Linked DNA regions of Homo sapiens. The protein of the gene in region 1 interacts with the protein of each later gene in a pairwise test. Each region holds a gene or a part of one and is shown in the gene's direction. Other genes may lie near its edges.

Region 1 (7,196 bases):
GAGGCAGGAGGATCACTTCAGGCTAGAAGTTCAAGACCAGCCTGGGTGACACAGCAAGACAAAAAATTTAAAAATTAGCTGGGCATCGTGGCGTGCGCCTGTGGTCCCAGCTACTCAGGAGGCTGAGGTGGGAGGATCTCTTGAGCACAGGAGGTGGGAGCTGCAGTGAGCCGTGATCATGCCACTGCACTGTAGCCTGGGCGTTCTTTCTAGAATGTTGTTTGAGGTGTGCCCACGTGGTATACGTGACACTCCTCACTGCCCTGCTGGGATCACTGCCCTGTGCAAACCCCAGGCAGACTGCGGGGTCCTTGCCAGAAGCCCAGTTAGTGTGAGTCCTGTCAGTTTCCCGGTTGCTTGCTTCTGCGTCCACTTGGCTTGAGCTAGATGGCCAACTTGTCATCTCCACATTTGTTGGAGTCATGGCGGGCAGCTGTCCAACTTGGAAGAGGCATGTCACCCACGCTTCTCACCACAGGAGGGTAACACAGGGGACCGTAGCAAGGTAGAAGATTCTTGACCTGGACTTCAGGGTCCTGACCTGGCAGGGGGTCTCCCCTGATGCTTGGGTGTGACATGACTTCCCTCCCCACCAACCTTCCTGCAGTGACAGCTCCCAGCGGCATCCTCGATGTCACCGTGGTCTACCTGAACCCAGAACAGCATTGCTGCCAGGAATCCAGTGATGAGGAGGCTTGTCCAGAGGACAAGGGACCCCAGGACCCACAGGCACTGGCGCTGGACACCCAGATCCCTGCAACCCCTGGACCCAAACCCCTGGTCCGCACCAGCCGGGAGCCAGGGAAGGACGTCACGACCTCAGGGTACTCCTCCGTCAGCACCGCAAGTCCCACAAGCTCCGTGGACGGTGGCTTGGGGGCCCTGCCCCAACCTACCTCAGTGCTGTCCCTGGACAGTGACTCGCACACACAGCCCTGCCACCATCAGGCCAGGAAGTCATGTTTACAGTGTCGTCCCCCAAGTCCCCCGGAGAGCAGTGTTCCCCAGCAACAGGTGAAGCGGATAAACCTATGCATACACAGTGAGGAGGAGGACATGAACCTGGGCCTTGTGAGGCTGTAAGTGTGTCAGCACATTTGCCGCAGTGGATGTGTACTGAGGGGGCTGGAGGCGAAGGGTGGGAGCATAGCATAGGAACGCTGCATAGACCATGGAGGCCTTTGCGCAGAGAGCAGAGAGGATGACTTGCGGCCACCAAGTTTCTGTCTCCGCGGGAGTCCCGTGCAAGCCATCAGAATGTTGAAATGAGGGTGAAGAGCTCAGATCCCTCTCTTTGGAAAGTTTAGCCTGGAAGCAGTTGGCCACACTGTGTGGAGGGCACCTCTCTGTCCCTTCCGTGTCTCACTGTCTCTGGAAGCTTCAGCCCATGTGTGTCCTGGTGTTCCCAGCCCCACCAGAGCCCCGTGCCGGGAGCTGACAGCTTTCACGCTTAAGGCACGTGTGACCTGGGTAGTCAGACACCACTTGAGCCCCTGCCCACATCTGCTGGTTTGGGGCTTCAGTGGGGAGCTGACAGCTGTGAGCACACCACTGTCCCCTCATCCACCTCGGCCTGCATGGGGCACCCACTTCCTTCTGGGTGGGGCTTCCATGGTAAGGGGGCCTGCGTCCCTGCACACTGCGAGGACTGCCTTGGCCACAGGCCCACTCCCTACGACACGTGACTCGTTTTAGAGCTCTGTCCCAGAGGCGTTCGTATGTGACCCACAGATGGCGTCAATGTGAACACCTCTCTTTGTGCTGAATTTCTGGGCCATTCTTTTCCTGTCTTATTTCTAAATTTCCTTCTTCCAAGATGAAAACAAAAGAAAAACTTAAAACAGAAGGTATTAAAAAAACAAGAGATTCCCACCATTATTTAGGTTCACCTGCAAAACAAAAATCTTACTCCAGCCCCTCAATGCCATCCTGACACACTTTATGCAAAAAGAATTTTCCCAGATAGGCTAGCCAGAAAAAACTTCAAGTCCTCTGTAACATCTGAGGTGACCAAGAGGCAGAAGAGCAGAGCAGTCGGGGGCCGTGTCCTGGCTGATCCCAACTGCAGCTCTGCTGTGGGGGCCCGTGGGAGGGAGGCAGACCCCTGGGCTTTCCTGCTGGCCACGGAGACTCTGCTCCTGCATGGAAAGGGAGCCTGGGAGCCAGCAGCCCACGCCTGGGGAGCCTGCCTGGGGCCATGTGACCATGGCCTCTCCCTGGGAACGGGCTGACCACAACACACCCTGCTGCCATCCACTTCTGTTTACTCTGCAAATGTAAGAAAGAACCACTTGGCCAGAAGTGTCCCCCAGATGCTTTTTTTTTTTTTTTTTTGGAGACAGTTTTGCTCTTGTCTCCCCGGCTGGAGTGCAGTGGCATGATCTCAACTCTCAACTCACTGTAACCTCCGCCTCCCGGATACTCCTGCCTCAGCCTCCTGGGTAGCTGGGATTACAAGCACCCAACCACGCCCAGCTAATTTTTGTATTTTCGGTAGAGACGGGATTTCACCATGTTGGCCAGGCTAGTCTCGAACTCATGACCTCAAGTGATCCGCCCACTTCGGTCTCCCAAAGTGCTGGGATTACAGGCATGAGCCACGGCGCCTGGCCCCCAAATGCTCTTGAACCGGAAACCCAGGGATGGGAGATGCTCACTGAGCTGCTGCTTTTATGTGTGCTGGTGCTATGTGTGTTCATGTCCGCGGCAGCTGTCTTTTTGCTACTATAAGGGAATTCTGGCCACCCTGGGTGGGGTGTGGTCGGGGTGAGAACCCAAGCGTTGGAACTGTAGACCCGTCCTGTCGACTGTGTGCCCCTGGGCATGTGTGAGCCTCAGTTTCCTCATCTGTAAGGGGGGCAATGATACCTACCTCACAGGGGTGTTGTGAGGATTAAATGTGAGGAGGATAGTGGCAGATGAGTGATGGACGTCCTTCACTGCCTCGGCCCCTTGTCCAGGGGCTCTTAATCCCAACTCTGCATGGAGTCAGTTCTCTGCTTTCTCCCAGCTTGCACCTGAAGGAGGAAACCACTCCAGGGGGACCTGGCCCCGCCTGCCTGTGGTGGGTGGGTTCCTGCATCACCCACCTGCTGACTGAGCATTTCCCTGCCTCCTCCTTCACAGAGAATCTCCAGGGAGGCAGGGCCACCGTCACCCTCCCCCACCGCTGATGGAGGGGCCCACCCGGAGCGCTGGGCCAGAGCTGCCTGGGTCCCAACCTCCCTGACAACTCCCTTTGTGCCCTCCTTCCCCTCTGCGATGGCACCTTCCCATTAACGACTATGGAATGGACTCACCTGTCCCATCTTTAAACAGCAACCCCAGGCTCTGTTTTTCTTTCAGCTACCGCCTGGGATTTCTTGCCCCCTAATTGTTTATTCTTGTTAACACCAACTACATGGGGCCCTGCTGCCTTCCTCACTTCCTCCCTCAGGTGTCCCCCGCATCACCGAAGGCCCTGTACCCCCGCCCCCCTGCTGTGCTGTGTACACCGCCGAGGCCTCAGCAGCACTTGGCCTGTGACCCACTCCCTCCCGTGACAGCCTCCTGTTGCCTCTGTGACACTGTCCTACTGCTCCTCCACCTCCCTGGCCATTGCGTGGGCCCCGTGATCTGTCCCTACCCGTCCCCTGCCCCACCAGGGGCCACCTCGCCTGGCCCACTGCTCCAAGGTCTGAGCTTCCTCCCCTCTGCCCAGTGCTATCACGTCACATGTCCAAAAGTGAACACTTTCTCCTCCTTCATCCCCGCCCCTGACACGCGGAATCCTCACCTCCAGCAACCCCGTCCTGTCCCTGTGCTCGGTGGCCCAGGCGTCAGCAAGACGGCTGGTCCCTGCGTTAAGAGCACTTTCAATAAGGACAGATGGAGCCTCTCGTATAACCTTCACCGGCCCCCTGCAAGAGAAGCGCGATAATGGCGCCCCCATCTACCCAGTTACCCAAACCAAAATCCCGGCGTCGCCCGCAGTCACCTCCCTGGCGGCCTCGGGGGCCCAGCTCCGAGCCGGAGTCCCCGTCAGACCTGGGAGGCAGGAGTGGGCGGGGCTTGAGGCTTGCCCGCAAGGAGGGAGAGAAAGCTTCGGGGGCGGCCCCTGAGCCCCGGTTCAGGATTGGGCAGCCCGGCCGGGAAGGGGCGGCCTTCCCTCCCGGAAGGGGCGTGGCTCTTCAGAGGCGGCAAATTGCAAGGAGACGCCGCCGCCTTCATGCTGCCGGCGGGCTGCTCGCGCCGGTGAGGCCTGCGCGGCAGGAGGGGGTGGGAGGATGCGGGCGGGCCGGTAGCCAGGCGCGGGGCCCGAGGCCCGACGCTGGCCGAGGTGCTGAGCCGCCGGTGCGTCCCCCAGGCTGGTGGCCGAGCTGCAGGGCGCCCTGGACGCCTGCGCACAGCGACAATTGCAATTGGAGCAGAGCCTGCGCGTTTGCCGTCGGCTGCTGCATGCCTGGTACGCGGACCCCGGACCCACTGGCCAGACCTCCCTCGGGCCCTCAGAGTCCCGCCCCGAGCGCCCAGGGCTGGGAGACCGGGCGCAGCCGCCCACTTCGGAGCTGTGGGTTGTCAGTGCCACCCTCCTTACCCTGCAGGCTCTGAGCTGGGGGCCTGCCGCGGGGCCCGGCGGCCCCCTCGGGTCTGTTTGGGCTGGGCCCTGCCTCCTGGCCGTGCGACGGCTGCCCGTGTCTTTGCAGGGAACCAACTGGGACCCGGGCTTTGAAGCCACCTCCAGGGCCAGAAACTAATGGAGAGGACCCCCTTCCAGGTAAACCTCCACCACCCGCCTTCTCCAGGTGCTGCTCTGGCCTGTCTGCTGGCGTGCAGTTGTGAGGAACCCTCCTGGGGGACAGTGGGGAGAGATCCCTGCATAATTCTTGGCTTTCACAGCATGCACACCCAGTCCACAAGACCTCAAAGAGTTGGAGTTTCTGACCCAGGCACTGGAGAAGGCTGTACGAGTTCGAAGAGGCATCACTAAGGCCGGAGAGAGAGACAAGGCCCCCAGCCTGAAATCTAGGTCCATTGTCACCTCTTCTGGCACGACAGCCTCCGCCCCACCGCATTCCCCAGGCCAAGCTGGTGGCCATGCTTCAGACACGAGACCCACCAAGGGCCTCCGCCAGACCACGGTGCCTGCCAAGGGCCACCCTGAGCGCCGGCTGCTGTCAGTGGGGGATGGGACCCGTGTTGGGATGGGAGCCCGAACCCCCAGGCCTGGGGCGGGCCTCAGGGACCAGCAAATGGCCCCATCCGCTGCTCCTCAGGCCCCAGAAGCCTTCACACTCAAGGAGAAGGGGTAGGTTTCCCGGACCCTCACTGGAGGGACTTCTGTCTCTGCCTCCTCAGACCCTGGCTAGCAAGGAGCCTGGGATTTGGGGTGACAGGGAAGGCAGGGCATCGAGCCCTGTGGCATACCCCTGAGGCTCATGCTCAGAAGCTGGCAGAATGAAGCAGCTGTGTGGTGGTGTCCAGGTTGGCACCATCAGGTCAGGGAAGTACTGGAGCCTGTCCTCCTCTCTTCTCTGTGGCTGTCCCCTTATTTGCCCAGGCCAGAGGCTCCAGATGGGCTCTGGAGGGCGTGGGATCTGCTCACAGGGCCCCGCTCACAGGGCCCCCTCTTCTCTCTAATGGGGCAGCACTGGACGATGCTTCTCCTATGGCCACTCTGGAAGCCCTATCCAAGGGGGCTCATCCTTGGTGGGGTCGGGTGTGGGAGAGGGGCAAGAAGCCTCATCCCTGATTGGGCTCTGAGCAGGAAGTGGGACTTGTAGACCCCAGAGCAAGGCGATGCTCCTCTGAACACGGGCTTCTCCGACAGGCACCTGCTGCGGCTGCCTGCGGCATTCAGGAAAGCAGCTTCCCAGAACTCGAGGTGAGGCTGAGGTCTTTGGCTGGACGGGGGTAGGGGAGAACCGGGAGGCATCACCAGCTCGGGGACAGGTTCGAGATACTTTCCAGTGGGTCTCTTTGTCCTCTTTGCTGAGTGGGATCACTGTCGATGTTAAAAATCTGCCAGCCGGTCAGCTTTGTCCCCTTGTCCTAGTCAGTGTCCTCTTGGTTCCCTGCGGCCTCTGGAGGCCCCTCCTGGCATTCAGCAGAGCCAGACGCCCAGCCTGGGGTCCCCACCCTGGCCCTTGCCTACCTCCCAAGGCCCAGCTTACTGGCTGGAATAACCGTGTCCCTCTGTGGTTCCTCTGTGCACCCCACGTGTGCACCCCAGCCTGTGGGCCCAGCTCAGTTCCACACAGACCAGTGATTCCACGGATGCCGCCGCTGCCAAAACCCAGTTCCTCCAGAACATGCAGACAGCTGTATCCTTGCTGGGCTTGTGGGAGCCCTGGGGGCCTCTAGCTCTGAACCTGGCAGGTTTGCAGAGCAGCCCCAGGAGGGGCTGGCGTGGGATGGCCAGGGCCACTCCCCAGGCCCCGTTCTTGGTGGGAGCAGAGGGGCTTTGGCTGCAGGGAAGTTTTCCTGACCCATATCCAGTCAGGCGGGCCCCAGCCCAGGCTCAGTGCTGTGGAGGTGGAGGCGGAGGCGGGGCGCCTGCGGAAGGCCTGCTCGCTGCTGAGACTGCGCATGAGGGAGGAGCTCTCGGCAGGTCAGTGGGTCCTGGGTCTGTATCAGGAGGAGTGTGGAGGGCCAGTGCAGGGAGGGTTTCCAGACTGCCACGGGCCCCACCTGCTCTCCCTGACTCTTCTGCAGCCCCCATGGACTGGATGCAGGAGTACCGCTGCCTGCTCACGCTGGAGGGGCTGCAGGCCATGGTGGGCCAGTGTCTGCACAGGCTGCAGGAGCTGCGTGCAGGTGAGACCCCGCCCCCACCCTGCCACCTGCACTGAGGTCTGGGCCGGGGACAGGGTGCTTTAGCCAGGCTTGTCTGCGCCTCAGGGAAGGGTGAGCAGCCCAGGGACCAGATGCAAGTTGGTGGGCCCCTCCACCCCTCCCACGCCACTCCCCAGTGTGCTGGGTCCTCACCAGTCGTCCTATGGGAGCAGTCAGCCTTCCTCTCCTCCTCAGGGCAGCTCTCCCACCTCGCTGCTCCCCGCACACAGAACCTCATTGCTCTGAGCAGTTGCTTATTCACCCAGTTGTTGAAAAACTAGCATGTGAGGGCCGGGCGCGGTGGCTCACGCCTGTAATCCCAGCGCTTTGGGAGGCCAAGGCGGGTGGATCATGAGGTCAGGAGATCAAGACCATCCTGGCTA
Region 2 (7,152 bases), on another chromosome or scaffold:
TTAAATATTTGTTACAGCAGCATCCCACTTTCTACTACCAAAATTTGTACTAGTTTCCTAGGCCTGCCACGACAAATGATCTTTAAATAGAAATTTATGGTTTCATGGTTCTAGAGGCTGGAAGTCCAAAATCAAGCTGTCAGCAGGGCCATGCTACCTACTGAAGGTCCTGGGGAAGAATCTTTTCTTGCCTCATTCTAGCTTTGGGTGGTTCCTGGCAATCCTTGGTGTCATTTGGCTTGTACCTGAATTACTCCAATCTCTGCCTCCTTTCCTATGCATGCTCTCCTCTTGTATTTTTTGTTTTTGTTTTTGACATAGTCTTGCTTTGTCACCTGGGCTGGAGTACAGTGGCATGATCTCAGCTCACTGCAACCTGCGCCTCCCCGGTTCTAGCGATTCTCCTTCCTCAGCCTCCCAGGTAGCTGGGATTATAGGTATGTGACACCACACCCTGCTAATTTTTTTTTTTTTTTAATTTTTAGTAGAGATGGGGTTTCGCCATGTTGTCCAGGCTGGTCTCGAACTCCTGACCACAGTTGATCTACTCACCTCCCAAAGTGCTAGGATTACAGGTGTGAGCCACCATGCCCAGCCTCCTCTCCTCTTCTTATAAGGACACCAGTCATTGGATTTAGGGCCTACCCGAATCTAGTATGACCTCATCATAACTGATTACATCTGTAAAAGTCACATTCTGAGGTTCTGAGTAGACACAAATTTTAGGAAAATACCATTCAATCCACTGCAGGTTCTAAGCAGCAGAGTTTGGAAATCAACATACTAAACATGGAACCTCTTGAAAGCATGCCTTCATTTTTAGCTCCCCAGCTTCTAGCCTAGGTCATGGAATGCAACCAATGCTTGCTGGAATTTGTACACCGATGTTGACAGCAGCATTATTTTTTTATTCTTTCTTTCTCACTCTAATCCCATGACAGATTAGTAGCATTATTCACAATAGCCAAAAGGTGGAAACAATCCAAATGTCCATGGGCAGATGAATAGATAAACAAAATGTAGTATATACATACCATGGAATATTATTTACCTTAAAAAGAAAAGAAATTCTGACATTGTTGCAACATAGATTAACCTTGAAAACATTGTGCTAAGTGAAATAAGTCAGATACAAAAAACAAATATTGTATAATTACACTTACATGAGGTACTTAGAATAGTCAAATTCTTAGAGACAAAATTAGAATAGTGGTTACCAGGGGCTGGGGAAGGGAGTACTGGGGAGTTAGTGTTTAATGGATACAGAGTTTCTGTTTGGATAACAAAATTTCTGTAGATGAATAGTGGTGGTGGTTACACAGCAATGTGAATGTGTTTAATACCAGTGAATTGTACACTTAAAAATGGTTAAAATAGTAATTTTTATGTTATATATATCTTACTACAATAAAATAAGTGTTTGCTGGAAGAATAACTGGGCTCATGTTCAGGGATTTCTCATCCTAGGTACCTAGCCTAGGCTACTTGTCCTCAGCTTTCAGTTTCTTCATAGCCTCACAAAAATAACCACAGAATCCACTAATTGGTTTCTTATTATATGCCAGGCACTGTGCTAAGCATTTTGCATGCATTATATTACTTAATATGCATAACAACAACCTTGTAGTAGATATTGGCATCCAACAGCAGATATTGGCATCTCCATTTTACAGATGAGAAAACTGAGGTACAGAGAGGATAACTAACAAGGTCACCAGCTGAAGACCAAGTTCTTTATCACTTTCAGTACTTCACAAGCTTCTCTCAAATCTGTTTGTCCCATGCTCTGAAGATCTAGACAAAAGATGGCCTCAAATTAGCCAAGACATATATATATATACATATATATACACATATATATATACACACACACACATATATATACACACACACATATATATATACACACACACATATATAGGACATCTATATGAGACATATATATGGGACATCTATATGAGACATACATGTGGGACATCTATATGAGACATACATGTGGGACATCTATATGAGACATACATGTGGGACATCTATATGAGACATACATGTGGGACATCTATATGAGACATACATGTGGGACATCTATATGAGACATACATGTGGGACATCTATATGAGACATACATGTGGGACATCTATATGAGACATATATGTGGGACATCTATATGAGACATATATGTGGGACATCTATATGAGACATATATGGGACATCTATATGAGACATATATATGGGACATCTATATGAGACGTATATATGGGACATCTATATGAGACATATATATGACATATATATGTGTGTGTGTATATATATACACACATACATACATATAGTGCCTTCTAATAAACCTGGAAGTACTTTACTCATATTCACTCCTTTAATCCCACAACAGGCCACAATAGAGTGGGGCACTATTATTTTCTTTCTTTTTTTTTTTTTTGAGTCGGAGTCTCGCTCTGTCACCCAGGCTGGAGTGCAGTGGCGCAATCTCGGCTCACTCCAAGCTCCGCCTCCTGGGTGCACGCCATTCTCAGCCTCCCGAGTAATTGGGACTACAGGCGCCCGCCACCACGCACAGCTGATTTTTTGTATTTTTGGTGGAGATGGGGTTTCACCGTGTTAGCCAGGATGGTCTCGATCTCCTGACCTCGTGATCCGCCCGCCTCGGCCTCCCAAAGTGCTGGGATTACAGGCGTGAGCCACCGCGCCCGGCGGGCACTATTATTTTCTTCATTTTACAGATGAGGAAATGAGCCACAGGGAAGTTAACTAACCCAAGGTCACAAAACTGGGCATGATCCCAAGAAAGGAGATCTAGGGATCTTTTAACCAGCTACTCTTTGTGATTTATTTATTTATTTATTTACTTTTGAGACAAGGTCTTGCTGTCGCCCAGGCTGGAGTGCAGCTTCAACCTCTTGGGCTCAAGCGATCCTCCCACCTCATCCTCCAGTGTAGCTGGGGCTACCAGGATGGGCTACCAGGATGGGCCCACCATGCCTGGCTAATTTTTTTTTTTTTATAGAGATGGGGTCTCACTATGTTGCCTAGGCTGGTCTTGAACTCCTGGCCTCAAGTGATCCTCCTGCCTCAGCTTTCCAACATGTTGGGATTATAGGTGTGAGCCACCGTGCCTGGCCTTATGATTTCTTACAGGAAGACATCCTCTGTCTATTGCTCCCACAAAGGCAAATAGGCCAACGCTTCTTCTCATCTCATTGGGACATTATTCCTGTTTCCATCCTTCTCATGGTTGAAATGTCTGTGGAATGAATGCATAAACGAGCAAAAGAGACGCTCCCTGCCCCTTCCAGTTGAAGTCCTCAGTTCAGCCCAGAGGTACTTTGCCATCAGACAAAAGTACTTGGGGTTCTCCAAGCCGACATGCTTTTTCCAGTGCCTTCCTTCGATAATTACAGTTCTTGTGCTCTTAGTTGTGTGTATTCGTGAATTATTAGATTTTTTATTGACAACTTCTATAAGCACAGGCCTATGCACAGTAGACAAGATAAATTAATAATTTTTCACAAGACTCCAGGGACCCTTCTCATTTCAGCCTCTTGAATTTTCCTGTATTATCTCAAGTCCTCCTGGGCCTGAAACCTTCTCACTCAGATTTTTCAGCTGGATCCAGCTCCCACCCAGCATCTTTGGGCGAGAAAAGCTCTCCTGCCGGCCTCCTCATTTTTGGCTTGAGGTCCGAACCCAGTTGGAGCTGGGAGACGTCGCTGGGCCTGCCCGCCTCAGCCTCCAGTAGAGGAGAATGGGAAACTCGGAAAGTCCAAAAGGGTCTTTGAGTGTGTCTGCCGGCATCCGCCAGCAGCCATCGCCTGCATTTTATCCAGAAACTAGTGTCAGGCTTTGCGAGGTATCCATATTGGTAGTTATTGCACGCTTTCATCTTGGAGTTTCTGAATATTCATGAGGGAAGCAGAAAGGCCAATGTTAAAGAGGAGAGAAACAGAAATGCATAAATATTAATAAAGGCAAGCCCACGTGCTCGGAGGAAGGCTATGAATGTTAACGAGGGGATGACGTCCAGCTCCCGCGCGTGCCAGTTGGGTGGGTGCCCGAGCGCGGGCGCGCCCCCGGAGCCCGGGCACGAGCGCGGGGAAGGGGTGGGGTGGAGGCGGGAGCGGAGCCGGGCGCCGCCGGAGCTGCGCGGGGAGCGCTCGCTGGCTGGCTGGCTGGCTGGCTCTCCGCTGCGCTGCGCTGCGCTCCGGCCGCTCCCGCGGCCCGTGGATGGGGGTGTCCGGCTGAGCCCCGGGATCCGCCTCCCTCCGCCAGGACCCGCACAGGTGCCGTCGCGGGGGTTGACTTTAGTTAGGACCCGACTCACTGCTGGGGGTGGGGTCTGGTGGGGGTGGTAAGGAGGCCCCGGGATTCTCTGACAGGACGGTCTGGGGTCGCCGCAGCTCCCCTCACCTGGTCCCATTCTGGGATTAGAAAGGAACAACGGGAGGCCGTCGCCTTCCTGCCCAGCCCTTCAGGGAGCGCAGCTGGGACGCCGCGCCAGGCCCTGGAGATGTGGGATGATGGGCACTTCCAGTATCATCTCAGCATCGGCCCTCCAGCCAGGCCTGGTGTGTGTGTGTGTGTGTGTGTGTGTGTGTGTGTGTCCGCGTGTGTGTGCCCGCGTGTGTGCGCGCGTGTGAAGGCAGGGCGGCGAGGTATGGGGGCTGGGGGAAGAAGGGAACGCCGCCCGATCGCGCTGGGGCAGTGGGTCGGTACCTCGTCCCGGGACCGTTATCTGGTCCAGTCACCGTAAACGCCCCAAGATCATCTTTGTCCCTAAAAACTTACCCCCGACCCCGCTCGTGCCCCTCCCCAGAGTGCGGAGCCTTCCCCAGACCGCGCATTCCTGCAGTGTCAGAACCGCTGGCAGCGGCCGCAGACGCCGGGAGAGCGATTGTTTTACTACAGACGGGCGGGAGAAGGGACCGGGGCGGCTGCGCGGTGGCGGGGCGCGCTGCCGTCGGGTGGGCCCCGGGCTCTGGAATGCGGGGAGCAGTGTTTGACGGCGTCGAGGAGGTATCACAGCCCGCTCTTCTTCCCTTTTGCCTATCCCTTCTCTCCTCGCCGCTAGGCATCCCCGACTCTCATCCCTCTCCCGTGTCCGGGCTTGTTTGGCCGGAAGGGCAGTGGAGTGTGTATGCGGCCTGCACGGGATGAGTCCGGCTTCCTCAGAGTGCCAGCCATTGTGCTGCCTGGAGGAGGCTTTCTTTACCCCACCGGACTGGGGGGAGGAGGGGGATCTGAGATGGAGGTGAATGGAGCAGCGGGAGGAGGGGGAGGGGAGCAAGCAGAACCGCGAAGGGGTTGCTGATCCATATGCAACGAAATACTTTTTCTGTCAAAATGTGCACAAACATGCACACTGGGTGGGTTCTGCGGAGGAGCAGTGGGAAATCTGAAGGTGGATCAGTGCAGGGTAGGTTTTAGGGACGGATATGGGGGACGAGGCACGGAATCAGTTGATCTATGGACCAAGTGATGGGAAGAAGGAGATGGAATGGGGCTTGTGTGGAGGTGCCGAGGCCCAGCGGGGTTAGCGTGGTGAAATCTCCACCGCTCCGCTCCACTCGGGTCAGCTCAGCAAAGCAGGGACTGAGCATTTGTACCGCAGCCCCGAGATGCAGCGAGTGCATCATTGTGCTGCAGGGAGACGTTTATGCGTTTCCTACTGGGTCTCTGTTAAGCCCCGTGAGTGTCTTTTCTTTTCCAAATTACACCATCTATTGGGAGTGAAAATAAATGGAATAGATTGTAGGACAATCAGACTATAGTCCTGCGCTCTGTTCTGTGGTAAAGAGAAAAAGAAAAGGCGACCCTCCCATGGTTCCTTCTTTCTGCCATTTTCATGTATGTACGTATTTATTTTTGATCTTGGAAGTCTAAAGGGAATAAGCTATCGCTTGTATTAATCCTACTTTAAGGAAAAGAAGGCTCCCAGATGAGCTATGAATGAGGATGGTGCAAGCTTGCCAGGATGGAAAATAAGGTTGTTTCAGACATTTTAGTTGAAGGATGAAAGCACTCCGTGAAGAGAGGAGGGCGAAAGAAAGTGGGCTAAAGGAAGGAAGGCAGGGTCACCATCTAAGGAAGTGCTGCCAACCCCAATCCACAGAGCCCTCCTGGAGGCTATAGTGGGGCCAGTCAGAACGCCTGACTCTCATCTGTGCCACAGCCTGAGGTCTTTCCACAAATGCTGGATTCAGTTTGGGTGTTGAGTGACTAGTTTCCCAGCACTGGCTTTCACTTTAACTTCATCTCCAGATGGTCATTCATGCAGCACTTCTTGGCTCTTGGATAATGAGTTGACAAAAAACAATCAGTCTATATTATGGACTGTTTCAAATGAGCATGTGTCTGAACCCTAGAGCTGTGATATTCATTTCGTCTTTTATAATTTTCTAGATGAATCCATTTTCTCTACACTCTGCCTGGGCAGAGTGCTTTCAGCACACTCTTCCTGTTGCCAACACTCAAAACTCAGTCTTAGTCCTAGATTCTGGTTGGATTGGCCTCTTGTTGCTGGTTAATCATATAGACTGTGTCATTTCAAATCAGAAACCCCACTGGTGTCACCATCTGCTTCTCCCCTGTCATTCCCAGAGAAAAGTACAAATTTAAAGGCAGTGTAAATACCTGCAACACTATCGGATTGGCTTTCATATCTCTGTAAAATGGAACCCACGATCCAGGAACCTTTGAACAAATAAATTGAAAAAAGAAGCCTTAGTAAAAAAGATGCTAAAATTCTTTCAGCAATAGTTCTCTTGTTTGATAAGCATATTGAAGCATTGCACAGAGAATATCATGGCAGGGATAATTTTTCTTTTACTTGAAGCACTCCCACATCACCTTTCTTTCTTTCTTTCTTTCTTTCTTTCTTTCTTTCTTTCTTTCTCTCTTTCTTTCTTTCTTTCCTTCTTTCCTTCTTTCCTTCTTTCCTTCTTTCCTTCTTTCCTTCTTTCCTTCTTTCCTTCTTTCCTTCTTTCTTTCTTTCTTTCTTTCTTTCTTTCTTTCTTTCTTTCTTTCTTTCTTTCTTTCTTTTCTCTCTTTCTTTCTTTCTTTCTTTCTTGAGATGGAGTTTCGCTCTTGTTGCCCAGGCTGGAGTGCAATGGCATGATCTCGGCTCACTGCAACCTCTGC
Region 3 (7,025 bases), on another chromosome or scaffold:
TAACTTCTCTGAGCCTCAGCTTTTGTTTTGGTTAAATATGGATTGTATTTACGTACTGAGGTTTTACTTATAAGAGTATTCTGCAGGATTCGATGTTGGCAGGACTTTGACCTCCTTGCAAAAGAGCTGTCCTGACCGTTGTTTACGACTGGTTGTAATACTTGGTGATAAAGATGAAGGCAGTTCATATGTCTTGACTGCAGAATTCTAGAAATCTTTCACTAGAGTTGCCTCTGTGTCCTTCCAACTACCATTGTTTTGACCTTGGTGGAGACTGTTAGTTGGCTTTCATTTTCTTGGAAGATCAAACTCACTGACAGGCACTTCTAAGTGAAATATTCCATCCCATTTGCCTTTTTCTTATAGCCTTGTTTAAGAAGGAGCAAATCAGCAGACAAAGCAAACTCCTCAAATTCTGGACTGTCTTCACCTGCTAGTGTATCCTGCTTAAATTCCTGCCAGGATTAGGTCTATAGTCAGTGATACGGTTTGGCTGTGTCCCCACCCAAATCTCAACTTGAATTGTATCTCCCAGAATTCCCACGTGTTGTGGGAGGGATCCAGGGGGAGGTAATTGAATCATGGGGGCTGGTCTTTCCTATGCTATTCTCATGATAGTGAATAAGTCTTACAAGATCTGATGGGCTTATCAGGGGTTTCCGCTTTTGCTCCTTCCTCATTTTCCCTTGCTGCCGCCATGTAAGAAGTGCCTTTTGCCTCCTGCCATGATTCTGAGGCCTCCCCAGCCATGTGGAACTGTAAGTCCAATTAAACCTCGTTTTCTTCCCAGTCTCGGGTATGTCTTTATCAGCTGCATGAAAATAACCTAATATAGTAAGTTAGTACCAGTAGAGTGGGGCGTTGCTGAAAAGATACCTGAAAATGTGGAAATGACTTTGGAACTGGGGAACAGGTAGAGATTGGAATAGTTTGAAGGGCTCAGAAGACAGGAAAATGTGGGAAAGTTTGGAACTTCCTAGAGACTTGTTGAATGGCTTTCCCAAAATGCTGACAGCAATATGGACAATAAAATCCAGGCTGAGGTGGTCTCAGATGGAGATGAGGAAGTTGTTGGGAACTGGAGCAAAGATGACCCTTGTTATGTTTTGGCAAAGAGAACTGGTGGCATTTTGCCCCTGCCCTAGAGATTTGTGGAACTTTGAACTTGAGGGAGATGAGTTAGGGTATCTGGCAGAAAAAATTTCTAAGCAGTAAAGCATTCAGGAGGTAACTTGGGTGCTATTAAACGTATTCAGTTTTATAAGGGAAGCAGAGCATAAAAGTTTGGAAAATTTGCAGCCTGACTATGCGATAGAAAAAAAAAAAACCCATTTTCTGGGGAGAAATTCAAGCTAGCTGCAGAAATTTGCGTAAGTAGCAAGGACCCTAATGTTAATCCCCACGACCATGGGGAAAATGTCTCCAGGCCATGTCAGAGACCTTCATGGCAGCTCCTCCCATCACAGGCCTGGAGGCCCAAAAAGGAACAAGTGGTTTCGTGAGCTGGGCCTAGGGTCTGCCTGCTGTATGCGGCCTAGGGACTTGGTGCCCTGTGTACCAGCTGCTCCAGCTGTGGCTGAAAGGGGCGAGAGTACAGCTCAGGCTGTGGCTTCAGAGGGTGCAAGCCCCAAGCCTTGGCAGCTTCCATGTGGTGTTGAGCCCACAGGTGCACAGAAGTCAAGAATTGAGGTTTGGGAACCTCCTTCTAGATTCAGAAGATGTATGGAAATGCCTGGATGCCCAGGCAAAAGTTTGTTGCAGGGGCAGGGCCCTCATGGAGAACCTCTGCTAGGGCAGTGTGGAAGGGAAATGTGGGGTTGGAGCCCCCACACAGAGTCCCTACTGGGGCACTGCCTAGTGGGGTTGTGAGAAGAGGGCCGCTGTCCATGAGTTTATCAGGGGTTTCTGCTTTTGCATCTTCCTCCTTTTCTCTTGCTGCCACCATGTAAGAAGTGCCTTTTGTCTCCCACCATGATTCTGAGGCCTCCTCAGCCATGTGGAACTGTAAGTCCAATTAAACCTCTTTTTCGTCCCAGTCTTGGGTATGTCTTTATCAGCTGCATGAAAATGGACTATACAGTCATTCAGTGTTTGAAAATTTCTTATCCAGGAAGGTATGAGCCAGAAACCCAGCAAGTTTAGTAGTCCACAGAAACCCAGCAAATTTAGTAGTCCACAGACATTGCCTCTAATTCTACTTCACTGGCATTAGAGGAGATATTCCAACAGAGAGGAGAATAGGAATGGACTGTGCATATGGGAGCTTTGCTGGGTAGATGAGTTAGTTCTCTAGAGATTTTTGGGTTCACATTTTTATTAAGGCTAATTTTATTTTTTATTTTATTTATATATTTTTAGAGACAGGGTCTTGCTCTGTCTCCCAGGCTGGAGTACAGTGGTGCCATCATAGCTCACTACAGCCTTGAGCTCCTGGGCTTAAGCAGTCCTCCTGCCTTACCCTCCAAAAGTAGCTGGGACTGCGGCACATGCCACAGGCCTGGCCAATTTTTTTTTTTTTTTTTTTTTTGTAGAGATGTGGGGCTCCCTTTTGTTGCCCAGGCTGGTCTTGAACTCCTGGCTTCAAGCAATCCTCCCACTTTGGCTTCCCAAAATGCTGGGATTACAGGCATGAGCCACCAGGCCCATCCCTAACGTGCATTTTAAAGCCAAACATCATTTGGGATGTTATGCTTTTAGCCGTTGCAGTCCTATTGCTTCTTTTTAGCGCCCAATCCCTATTTGTTAACTATGTTATGTCTGTATTTTAAAATTTTCATTCTTGGGCTTAATACCTAGGTGATGGGTTGATAGGTGCAGCAAATCACCATGGCACATGTTTGCCTGTGTAACAAACCTGCACATCCTGCCCATGTACCCCGGAACTTAAAAAAAAAATTCATTCTTATGTTTATGCCCCAGCCAGGATTGTTTTTGTATCCTAGTGTCTTACACACTTGGAAAGAAAGCCTATTGCTTATTCACAATTAGATACCTAATAAACATTTTAGGGTGTTTTTTTCTACATGACATCTTTGTGTATACCTCTAGCTAGTAAGTAGCTTGTATGTTTAGTGTTTGATTTTACGTATCCCAATTAGATTTCAAGTCACTTGTATCTCTGAACTTTAGTTTTTCATAAAACATCATGTTTTATTGTGCTGATTATTACTTTGGTATTGAAACCTGAATTTTGGTTGTGAAATTTGAGTTTGGTGTTCTTATCTGGTGTGGTTTGGGACTCTCTTCAATACACCTCATTTGAATTAATGCTTAGAGTAATGGAGCTGGAAGGAGTATCTGCTTCTTGTCCAGGTCTCTCATTTATAGAAGGGCAGAGGATACCTAGGGAGGTTAAGGGGCCTGGCCAATGACTCGTTATTTGAAGAAGGATGGAGATGAGAGTTTGTTTCCCTAGTCTCAGTCAAATGCCCTTACCATTTGACCCTCTTGCCTCCCTGTAATGCTGTTGGGTAATAAGGTCAGGTAACTGCATTGGATAGAGCCTGGGTGTGTTTTATTGTGAACTCCCTCTCTTTCTCCTTTTTGTTGTATCTGCCTTAGTGCTTAGCTTCTTTATTACAAATTAGATATTAAATCCTGTTCTCACATTGAGAGCGAATTCTTTCTCCAGAAAGGATAACAAACCTTTTGTTTGAGAGAGATTTTTCACTTTTTGAAATGGTCTGTTTGTTTGAAGTTACAGAAGAAAAATAAGTGTAATGCACAGTTGTATTTATTATTCATGTGACCCTGGAAACATTTCTTCCCCGCCCTGTGTTTCAGTTTCTTCATCTGTAAAATGAGGTTAATAATGGTTCCCCCTTCTAATGTTGTTTTTGAAGATTACATGAGTTAATACATGTAAATTGCTTAGAACAGTGCCTAGCACCTAATATAATGGAAGTGTTGCCTACTGCCTATTGGCAGTTTTCTGTACGGCTTCACCTTCCCTTAGGACTTCTTGTCAGCCCAGTTATGTGATTTTTCACCTCGTTTTTGTTTAGGAGACTCTACTTTGTTGATGTTTTTCTGAGAAACAATGTGCTGTCTGTTTTTCTCTGTTTCCTTTGACATTTGCTGTTCATCTTTCACTGAATATTTGTTTAAGAAAGACATACAGAATGTTAATTTTCATTGATTGTAGCTTTCTTCTTTTTAAGGATTTGGAATGCCCTGACAGATAATTATGGGAATGTGATGCCTGTAGACTGGAAGTCATCGCATACTAGGACCTTGCACTTGCTTACTCTGAACCTCTCAGAAAAAGGGGTAAGTTAGGAATTGAACCAATAGTGTTTGAATAACTGATGCTGATAATAGAACTAAAACAGTAGCATTTCTGCTTAACACAGATTCACTGACCTGCCTCTCATTTCTGAAATTATAGCAGTTTGGGTGGCTCTGTCTTGATGTCTTGGCTGTAGGGCCATCACCTTGCTGGCACATTCCTCCAGTTCTTCTCCAGCACACTCATTTTTTATGTGTAGCTAAATTTCCATCACAATTTTTTTTTTTTTGACGGAGTCTCACTCTGTTGCCCAGGCTGGAGTACAGTGGCTTACTACAACCTCTGCCTCCTGGGTTCAAGCGATTCTCCCACCTCAAACTCCCGAGTAGCTGGGATTACAGGCATGAGCCACCAGTCCCGGCTAATTTTTGTATTTTCAGTAGAGACAGGGTTTCGCTGTGTTGGCCAGGCTGGTCTCGAACTCCTGACCTCAGGTAATTCACCTCCCAGAGTGCTGGGATTACAGGTGTGAGCCACTGCACCTGGCAGTGATGATGCACTGAAACACTCAGTAAAATTTGGTGCACTGAAACCCTCAGTAAAAATGCTAGCCTTTGGTTTAATATACTGAGAGTATTGGAATCTCAACACGGAGTTAACTTTTTAATGAGTGTAGTGACCTGCTAGACATGATATGTTGTCAGGAGACTGTGTATTCCTGTGAATACTGGAGAACCTTTAAAAGATATTTTAGTTCTTGGCTTTTAAAATACGGTCTTGGCTAACTTACCTTTCTTGGGGTCTCCTGTGTACATCCTGGTATTGTAAAGTGAAGATGTCTTGACTAAGAAGTGTGAGCACGAGTGGTGGGACAGGTAGGGAGGCAGAAAAGGGTTGAGAATTACTTGAAATGGAAAATCACAGTGTTAAGCTTTTTTAAATCTGATGAGAAACATATCCAAATTATCTAAGTTTCAGGGCCTGGCTGTTTAAGTTCCTTATCAAATAATAATGTAAACTCATGCCAGATCTTCTTGCGTGCTCTATATTTCATTAAGTGTAATTATGTGATTATTGAGAATATAGTGCAGTAGGCCTGTCACTATTTTACATAGTATTGTTAATGTTTTGTTAAAAGGATTTTCTTACATATGTGATCAGAAAAGCCTACTGTTATTATTTTCTAGTAAAATGTAGAATTCTGGCTGTATTTCCCAGTATTCAGTAGCTATGGAAATCTTCCTGACTGTGCCAGTCATTAATCCCATTAAGCTTTGCAGACTGACCTGGCATATATTTAATGAAAAGGAATAAAATGAGGGATCTTTTGCTCTGTCTTGTTTACTTAGGTCCTGGCTATCATTTTGGGCTTAGTTCAAGTTTCCCTTCCTCTCTGAAGCTTCCTATTACTGTTTTAGCCTTTGCTGATCTCATGGAATTATACAATTTTAGAGTTGGAAGGGGCTTTAAAGGACACTTAATCCAGCCTCTCACTTGGGGGGAATCCTCACCTCCAGCATCTCTGACAGATGGTCATTTAGCCATGGCCTAAATTCCTGCACGGAAGGAAAACACACTCCCCTCTAGGGGAACTGATGGCACTTGTGGGGTTGTGAACTTTGAAAGGACTTGTTATCTGTGCCACGGGGTTTAGCCTTGCTGTCTCATGGGTGCTAGTCCCCAGATCACTTTGTCCCTGTCTCTAAAATTACCACTGCCTTCTCTTGTTAATCATATGTTTCTGGGTCTGTCACTAGATTGTGACTTCCCGGCAGGTATTTGTATTTGTCTTTATAGTAACTATACTGTTCCTGGCACATAGTAAGTTTGAAGATACCTTTTTATTGAGTGAATAAGTGAATAGCCTTGTCAGTGAAACTGTAGGGCCAGAGATCGTGATAGAAAGGTTTTAAAAAAATATTTTCTATGTTATTTAAAATAATGCAGAATGCACCAAAACCAGTCCATGGGTACTACTTTTTTGACATATTAAAAAATAGCATAGAAGAGTTTCCATTCATAGTTTCAAAGTCAGGCCCATTAGCAGCGTGAGTGAGACAGTTTAATCCAATTTCATTGACTAAATGTACAGCGGGCCCACCATATTCTCTGGTTTCACATCTGCTGCTTTAGCCAACTGTGGATTAAAAAACTTGAAAAAAAAACCCCACAATAAAATAACAACACAACAATTGAAAATAATGAAAATAAAAAACCGAAAACCGATACAATATAACTTTATAATATAAATATTGTATAGTTATATACAATATAACTATAAACCATTTACCTTGTATTAGGTATTATAAGTAATTTACATATAATTTAAAGCTTATAGGGGGATGTGCACAGGTTATATGCAAATACTACCCCACTTTATATAAGGGACTTGAGCATCTGCAGATTTTGCTATTGGGGTGTCCTGGAACAAATTTCCCTTGGATACCGAGGGACTGCTGTATGTCTTGTATTGTTCTTAGATTGCATCTTGGGAGGTTGCTCCCTTTTGCTGCCTTTTGAATGTTATTTTCAATGCCACGGTAATGATATGGCCAAGGCAGTGATTAGTAATGACGTAGAGTTTAATGCTAGTACTGACATTAAAAAGCCTTACCTGGCTGGGCGCGGTGGCTCATGCCTGTAATCCCAGCACTTTGGGAGGCTGAGGTGGATGGATCACCTAAGGTCAGGAGTTTGAGACCAGCCTTACCAACACGGTGAAACCCCGTCTCTACTAAAAATACAAAATTAGCCAGGCGTGGTGGCGCATGCCTGTAATCCCAGATACTTGGGAGGC
Region 4 (7,025 bases), on another chromosome or scaffold:
ATTTAGGGAGGAAGGAAGAGATCAGAAACTGCAAGGCGTTGTAGTCTGTTCTAAAGAGTAGTAATCTGTTCTAGTGAGTACGTTATTATGCTAGCTTAGGCAGGGGAGTAATGTGACCCCGCATTTTCTTTGGAGAAAGCATTGAAGGAGGAACAAGTATGGAAGTGGGGAGGTTAGTGAAGAGCCAGGGCAGTAGTCCAGGCAAGAGGTGGTGCTGGTGGTTTGGGGGCTGGAGTGAAGTTTGTGAGGTAGAATTGATGGGATGGATCAGTGGAGTAGATACAGGGGAGCAGGATGAGGAGACAAAGAATCAAGGATGACACCCTGGTTTCTGATTTCAGCAAGCAGGTAGATGGAGTTGGAGTTTACCGAGTTAAGGTAGACTGTAGGAGGCCGTGAAATCAAGAGTCTGTTTTGGCCATTTTAGGTCAGATGTCCCTTCTTCATTTCTCTTCACCCTCTACCCTGTCCTTTAGTGTTTCCTAGAGCTGGATTCTTTGGGAATGTTTGCTGCTGCCTCTGAAGTCCAGCAGTGACCTCTGTCCAAGTCATTGTTCAAGTAAAAGATGTGTGGCTGGGATCCTGAGGACCCTCTCAGTTACTTTTAGAGAAATGGGCCCTGTGTTTGAAATCTGGAGATATATGTGTTGGCTGTTTGCATCTTCCTAGGTTTGGAACCCAATTTCACTATCTGGCAGATAATTCTTTGCAGTGTGTGATTTGAGGTTCTACTTGTTCCAAGTTTACTGTGGAATGAATTTTCCCCTCTAATTTTAGCCATTCTATTAATGTTAGTGGTTTTCAGGGAAAGGGAGGAAATAACCTTTTAAAATTTTTCTTAAATTTTTATTTAAAAATTTTTTTTTAGAGATGGAGTCTCGTTATGTTGTCCAGGCTGACCTCGAACTCCTGGCCCCAAGCCATTCTCTCACCTTGGCCTCCCAAAGGGTTGGGATGACAGGTGTGAGTCCCTGCGCCTGGTTGGAAATAACTCTTATTCTGCTATCTTTTCCCAGAAGACCCCAGTACATTTAGTTTTAAACCGCTCTTTTGTGTGTTTGACTTTGGGCTTATTTTTTGTCCTCCGAGTTCTAAAAAGTTGGATTAGAAACTCTCTGTCTGCAGGTATGTTATAACGAACTACATTAATAAATTATTGTTACTTTCTCTGTTTCTAGGTGTTTCCTGTAATGTTTCTGTGGATAAGGAACAGAAGCTATCCAAACGTGAAAAGGAAAATGGTTGGTGAGTAAAACTGTATTTATATGAATATGTTAGAGAATTTTCTTTAATAAAAATCTTTAAAAGGTCATTACTAGTAGTAAGATTACTTGGGATAAAACTTTTCATGATAGTAAAAAAATCAGTCGTTCGCATATATCAGTTCTTTTTTTTGCTTTTTCTATATCCTGTTTTAGAAAGGAATATGTTAGTTCTTGAGTGGTTGTGGTCACCTTTAGATATTGAAAAGTTAGAGTTTCTAGATTTCTAAAAGCATATGCTGACATTCCCTTTTTGGATCTTTGGGCTTGGTGCTGAAGAAAATCAAAAATAAAAATAGAAAAAGAAGGTCGGGCACGGTGGCTCACGCCTGTAATCCCAGCACTTTCGGAGGCCAAGGTGGGCAGATCACCGGGGGGTCAGGAATTCGAGACCAGCCTGGCCAACATGGCAAAACCCCGTCTCCACTAAAAATACACAAATTAGCCGGGCATGGTGGTGCGGGCCTGTAATCCCACCTACTCAAGAGGCTGAGACAGGAGAATCACTAGAACTACGGAGGTGGAGGTTGCAGTGAGCCAAGATCGCCAGTGCACTGCAGCCTGGGCAACAGAGAAAGACTCCGTCTCAAAAAAAAAAAAAAAAAAAAAAAAAAAGAAGAAAAGGAAATACCTATATTATAAAATCTCAATGTTAAAGGGTGCCTTAGGCTAATGCTGCCCAACTTTCTCATGTTATGGCACACACATAAAATGCTGCTGTCACACACACAGCCTATTGGGGTAAACAGACAAGGCTGTTTGTGGCAAGAGCAAACAACACAGGAGCTCCAGCAATCTGAAGCCCTGTGTGGCCACTTTAAGGGTAGAGGGGACAAATATCTTGCCATACCTGCCACCCATGTGCCATAGTGACGCCTGAGCAAACTGAGTGGGAAGCGCTGCCCTATATAATTGTTGCTGCAAATGTAAACTGTATCTTACACTTGCGTATGAAATAACTTTAGGTGGTACACAGTTAAACAAAAATTAATTATGTGTATATTTTAATGTGTATTAAAAATACTGGCTTTTCATTTTTAGTGATGCTAGAGTATCCTATCAAATAAAGTATATTTCAATTTAAAAAAAATTACTCTGTGCACTTATGACCAAATACCTCCTGATGACCCCTCCTCCCAATACCATCACATTAGGAGCTACCATTTCAACTTATACATGTGGTAGGGGACAGAAACATTCAATACTTAGTCGCTCCTAAAACCCTTTCGATTTCTTGAGTGATGGGGTGATAAGGGTATCTTTTGTTACCATGTTTGGTCTTAGTCCCCAGTTCTGACAGAAGAGCTTCTAAGATGCTTGGAATCTCTGGAGTGATAATAATGTCGTTTTTAATCCTAATGAGGTGACTGTGGCTGGGGGGCTTCTATGTAGCTTCAGGATTGGGGGCCAGAAGGACCAAGGCATGATTAGAGGGTTGGAAGTTTTGGCCCTACCCCAACCTCTTCTCCTACCTCCATCGAGGGCAGAGGGGCTAGAGATTATCAGCAATGGTGTAATTAATCATGCCTGTGTTATAAAACCTCCAAAAAACCCATGGGTTTTAGAGAACTTCCAGATTGGTGAATATGAGATGCCGGGAGGGTGGTGTACCTAGAAAGGTCTTGGAAGCTCTGTGTCCCCCTTCTGTAACCTTTGCCCTATGTATCTCTTCCATAAAAGTGAAAAAAAAAAAAAAAGAAAAAAAGTTTCTCCATTTAAGATAAATTAGTAATAGTACAGATGGTTTGTGGATGTGACAGAAATTGTGGTGCCGGCATGCAGGCCATAAAAATTTGGAAAACCCACCTCAGATCATTTCTCATTTGGTAGTTGAAGAAAGTTAGGCCCAGGGAGGCTAGAACTTTGCTAAGGTCACAGGACTAATTAGCAGTAAGAGCTAGGATGATGCTTGTTACCCTTCCTTACTGCCTTCGAAGTGCTCTTTCTTCTCCACTTTCTAGCTCTAGCTCTAGCCATTTTGATATCACCATCATTTTTGTCCTATTTGTGTACCAGGTACCAACTGTGCTATTACATACTAAATTTTTAAAATTAAATCAACTCAAAATTTTTATTTAAATTTGTCTTAAAAGGATTGTTTTTACTATCATAAATACATACTTGCCATAACTAGAAAGTAACTCTGAAGATAATTACAGTGAAAACAAATGTTATTAGTTCTAGCTGAGATGTTGTTGCCTGGCTGGTTCTCTGCCTGAGGTCTGTTCTGTTACTATTAAAAGATTTGCGACTATGAGACAAGTGTCAAAGACAGTCTAGCACCAAACCGAGACTTTCTTCTTTTTTCTAATCAGGATTGATAGAGAATTCACTCTCTTTGATCCAGAGTTATTAATACTGTTTGTATCACCTAAACCCATCGATTAGACTGCCTTCAGTTGTCTTGGACTTCACTAGGGTTGTGTGCTGCACACTCCCGTGTTGCTTTGGGATGCTTGTGAATTTTTTGATACCTGCCTGAGCCTTTCTGCTGATGGTCAGCAAGAGCACTGTGGGCTTTAGAAATATGTTGTGAAGGTGCCAGTGCTGTTTTCTCTGTTAAGTCTGACTTTGTCCTTTGTTGAGGATCTTAACAATCGGATTATTCCTTGTCTAACATCACCTTACGATTATTGGCACTGCCTTCTCAATGTTACTGTTCAATGAAAGGGGTGAATGCTGGCCAAATTCTTGCCAACTGTGAAAGCGGAAAGTTGCTGCCTTAATACTAGCTACCATCTCTTCATTGCTCCACAAGATGATTCTAGAAGTGTGAATGGGTTTGTTCCTATTTTTGGTGGTGTTTAGGTTGATTTTGATAACTCGGGATAAAACAGTCTTATTCATGGCTCAGTGGATTTGGGGAGTTCAAGCCTCTGGTTTCTCTGAGTGTCCTTTCTTGGCTGATGACATTAGATATTAGTTTGCAGTCTTGGTAATGGTGTGAGGCGGTCTTATAATGGTAATGAGGTTTGATATATAGCATGGAGGTTTACCTGTTCACTGTGAGTAATTTAAGTGGGATTTACCGACATGCTTTTTATTTCTCATATAAACATTTAAACAAGCTGGCTGGGTATGGTGACTCCTGCCAGTAATCTCACATTTGGGAGGCCAAGGTGGAGGATTGCTTGAGGCTAGGAGTTCGAGACCAGCCTGGGCAACATAGCGAGACTATTTCTACTATAAAACTAAAATATAGAAGCTTATAAAAGCCCGTAGACACTTAATATGTAATCAGTGGCATACTATCCAGCTAATCACATCATCAGTGAGAATTCATGACTTAATCAGATGGTGATCCATTTTGTTCTTTGTTCCATATGTTGCTGTAATAATTAACAGTGTCTCAGTATCTGTAAGTAAACAATGATGTAGTCTATAATCTGTGAGTCTTGGGTAGCTCCCTTTTGCTTGATAGCAGGAATGGATATTTAGTGATTACAAGTGTTTCACATACTGAGTAGGAGTTAGAATACTTTTGTAATAAAAATCGTTTGTGGTGTATGTTTTACTACTGTGATCACTACTAGATTTAAATCTCTAGTTATCATTTTGCTATGTGTTGGAATGGTAATTTTAGTATATTTATAGAATGGTAAATTTGGATGGGTCAGTTCAACAAGGCGTTTGGGAGACACTGGATTCTAAGCCAGGTTTTAAGGAGACATGAATAGGCTTTGGGGGAGGGTATATTCAAGTGTGTGGAACCTGAGTTGAGAGGTAACTAGAATGAAGAAACAATTACATGGGTTGTCATCTAACTTTAGAGACTTTTTTTTTATTAAGCCAAGCAGTATTACCTTCCACTAGAGCAGAGTTTGGTAAACTATGGCCCATGGGGCGGGCACCCATTTGTGAATACGAGTTTATTGGAACACAGGTTATTCAGTTAGTATTGTCTATAGGTGCTTCCGTTTTACAATGGCAGAGGTGAGTAGTGACAGACACCAGATGGCTGGCGAGGCTAAAATATTTATTCTCCACTTTGTTACATTAGTACCAGATGGAGGAATTTATATTCTAGAAAAACACCACCTCAATATTCTCTCTTGTCACTTTTTTGTATGTCCCTTGTCATTTGATACTTAAGGCATCGTGGCTGTCTTTACATTTTTATTGTAAATATCTTACTATCATTTTTTCCTATCCTTTATGTATGACCTAGTGTGGTCAGAATAGCATACTTGAGAAACTGAGGTGTTTATGGATTTTAACAGTGAGATTTTTATTATAATGAGTTGCTGCTTCGTTTCCTAAAGCAAGACATTTCTTTATTGCAGCGTCCTTGAGACTTTGTGCTGCGCGGGGTGCTCACTCAATCTTGGCTACGTGTACAGATGCACGCCCAAGAATCTTGATTACAAGAGAGACTTGTTTTGCCTCAGTGTTGAAGCCATTGAAAGGTAAGTTTGATATATAAATGTTTACCTCACAACTGGTGTTTCAGAAAGTTAAGGCACGGAATTGTCAGAACTAAATCAATACTGTTTGGTTAAATATATTTTCAAGTAATGATTTCTAACAAGCCAGTAATTTTTTTTTTTTTTGCTTTGACCTCCTTCTTTATTTGGTATTGGAAAAGTCAGACACTCTAAATTGTAGGAGAAAACACTGTGAGAAAATTTTTGGAATAAAAGTATATTCAGTTGTTTTTAAAAATTGAAAGTAGTTCAGTAGGATATTGCCCCCTGCCCCCAGCTTTTTATTTTTATTTATTTTAAAACTTATTTTTTTAAGATATGGGGTCTCACTCTGTCGCCCAGGCTGGAGTGCAGTGCTGTGGTCATAGCTTTCTGCATCCTTGAACTCCTGGGCTCCAGCGATCCTCCTGCCTCAGCCTCCCAAGTAGCTAAGACTACAGGCATATTGCCCGGGGTCTTGTGTTGCCCAGGCTGGTTTCAAACTCCTAGCCTCAGATGATCCTTCTGTCTCAGCCTCCTGAATAGCTGGGAACAAGTGCATGCCACCACACCCAGCTTGTATTTTAACCTTGTACCGTACTTCAGTTATGTTTTAGGGTCCTCTGAAAAGCAAATTGTGTCAGAAGATAAAGAGCTTTTTAATCTTGAAAGCAGAGTTGAAATAGAAAAGTCTCTAACACAGGTAATTTTATTCTGTACATTTTATATCTTTGTATGAACAGTTTGTCAGTGAAGAAGTGCTCCCCCACAAACGATAATTCTCATAACGTCATCTGTGTTGATTGCAGGAAGAGTGTGCTTATTTCATTTCAGTTGTTAGTAAAGTTGATTTTTGGGGAACTCAAAAGCTAAAGCTTAATCAACAAAATAATGAGGAAGACATGTCATGTCAAAATCAAAACTATATATTAAAACACTGCAAAGCTAGAAATACATCTTTGATTCAAATCAGTATTTTGTTTGATTCAATTCTTGTGGTATAAATAGCCTTGTTGTTGGATGTTAACATTTTCTCATTGCCAGATAGGTGAGATGGTGATGATTGTATAAAAGAGATGTAGATTATAGGTTGAGAACTACTGTTGATAGAATTATGCTTTATTTTTAAAAAATTTATGCCTCTAAATAGTTTTGTTAAACACTGAATATCTACCTTGTAATGTATGACATATCCAAAATTGCATTAAGTGTATATCTTAATTATATTTAACCATGTATAATTTTTAATTATATGTGTGTTTCTTTATTTTTTTATTTTTTAAATTCAATAGATGGAAGATGTCTTGAAAGCATTACAAATGAAGCTGTGGGAGGCCGAATCCAAATTGTCCTTTGCCAC

The links.
Region 2: the proteins of TEDC2 (region 1) and FEZ1 interact in a two-hybrid assay, tested with the Homo sapiens proteins (one study listed by BioGRID).
Region 3: the proteins of TEDC2 (region 1) and FEZ2 interact in a two-hybrid assay, tested with the Homo sapiens proteins (one study listed by BioGRID).
Region 4: the proteins of TEDC2 (region 1) and MIS18A interact in binary tests that used the Homo sapiens proteins (3 or more experiments, as listed by UniProt).

What each region holds. Positions count from the first base shown.
Region 1 is NC_000016.10:2,455,938-2,463,133, forward strand, and holds the start of TEDC2 (tubulin epsilon and delta complex protein 2), read left to right. Parts: upstream 1-4,171; 5' UTR 4,172-4,207; coding exon 4,208-4,233; intron 4,234-4,345; coding exon 4,346-4,444; intron 4,445-4,685; coding exon 4,686-4,756; intron 4,757-4,878; coding exon 4,879-5,287; intron 5,288-5,809; coding exon 5,810-5,863; intron 5,864-6,211; coding exon 6,212-6,302; intron 6,303-6,477; coding exon 6,478-6,589; intron 6,590-6,693; coding exon 6,694-6,795; intron 6,796-7,196. Other genes in the region: CCNF (cyclin-F), read left to right, coding at 608-1,083. UniProt on the Homo sapiens protein: Acts as a positive regulator of ciliary hedgehog signaling. Required for centriole stability.
Region 2 is NC_000011.10:125,493,264-125,500,415, reverse strand, and holds the start of FEZ1 (fasciculation and elongation protein zeta-1), read left to right. Parts: upstream 1-4,150; 5' UTR 4,151-4,295; exon of another isoform or gene 4,296-4,580; intron 4,581-4,800; exon of another isoform or gene 4,801-5,202; intron 5,203-7,152. UniProt on the Homo sapiens protein: May be involved in axonal outgrowth as component of the network of molecules that regulate cellular morphology and axon guidance machinery.
Region 3 is NC_000002.12:36,588,147-36,595,171, reverse strand, and holds part of FEZ2 (fasciculation and elongation protein zeta-2), read left to right. Parts: intron 1-4,160; coding exon 4,161-4,269; intron 4,270-7,025. UniProt on the Homo sapiens protein: Involved in axonal outgrowth and fasciculation.
Region 4 is NC_000021.9:32,269,050-32,276,074, reverse strand, and holds part of MIS18A (protein Mis18-alpha), read left to right. Parts: intron 1-1,178; coding exon 1,179-1,245; intron 1,246-5,545; coding exon 5,546-5,668; intron 5,669-6,271; coding exon 6,272-6,368; intron 6,369-6,957; coding exon 6,958-7,025. UniProt on the Homo sapiens protein: Required for recruitment of CENPA to centromeres and normal chromosome segregation during mitosis.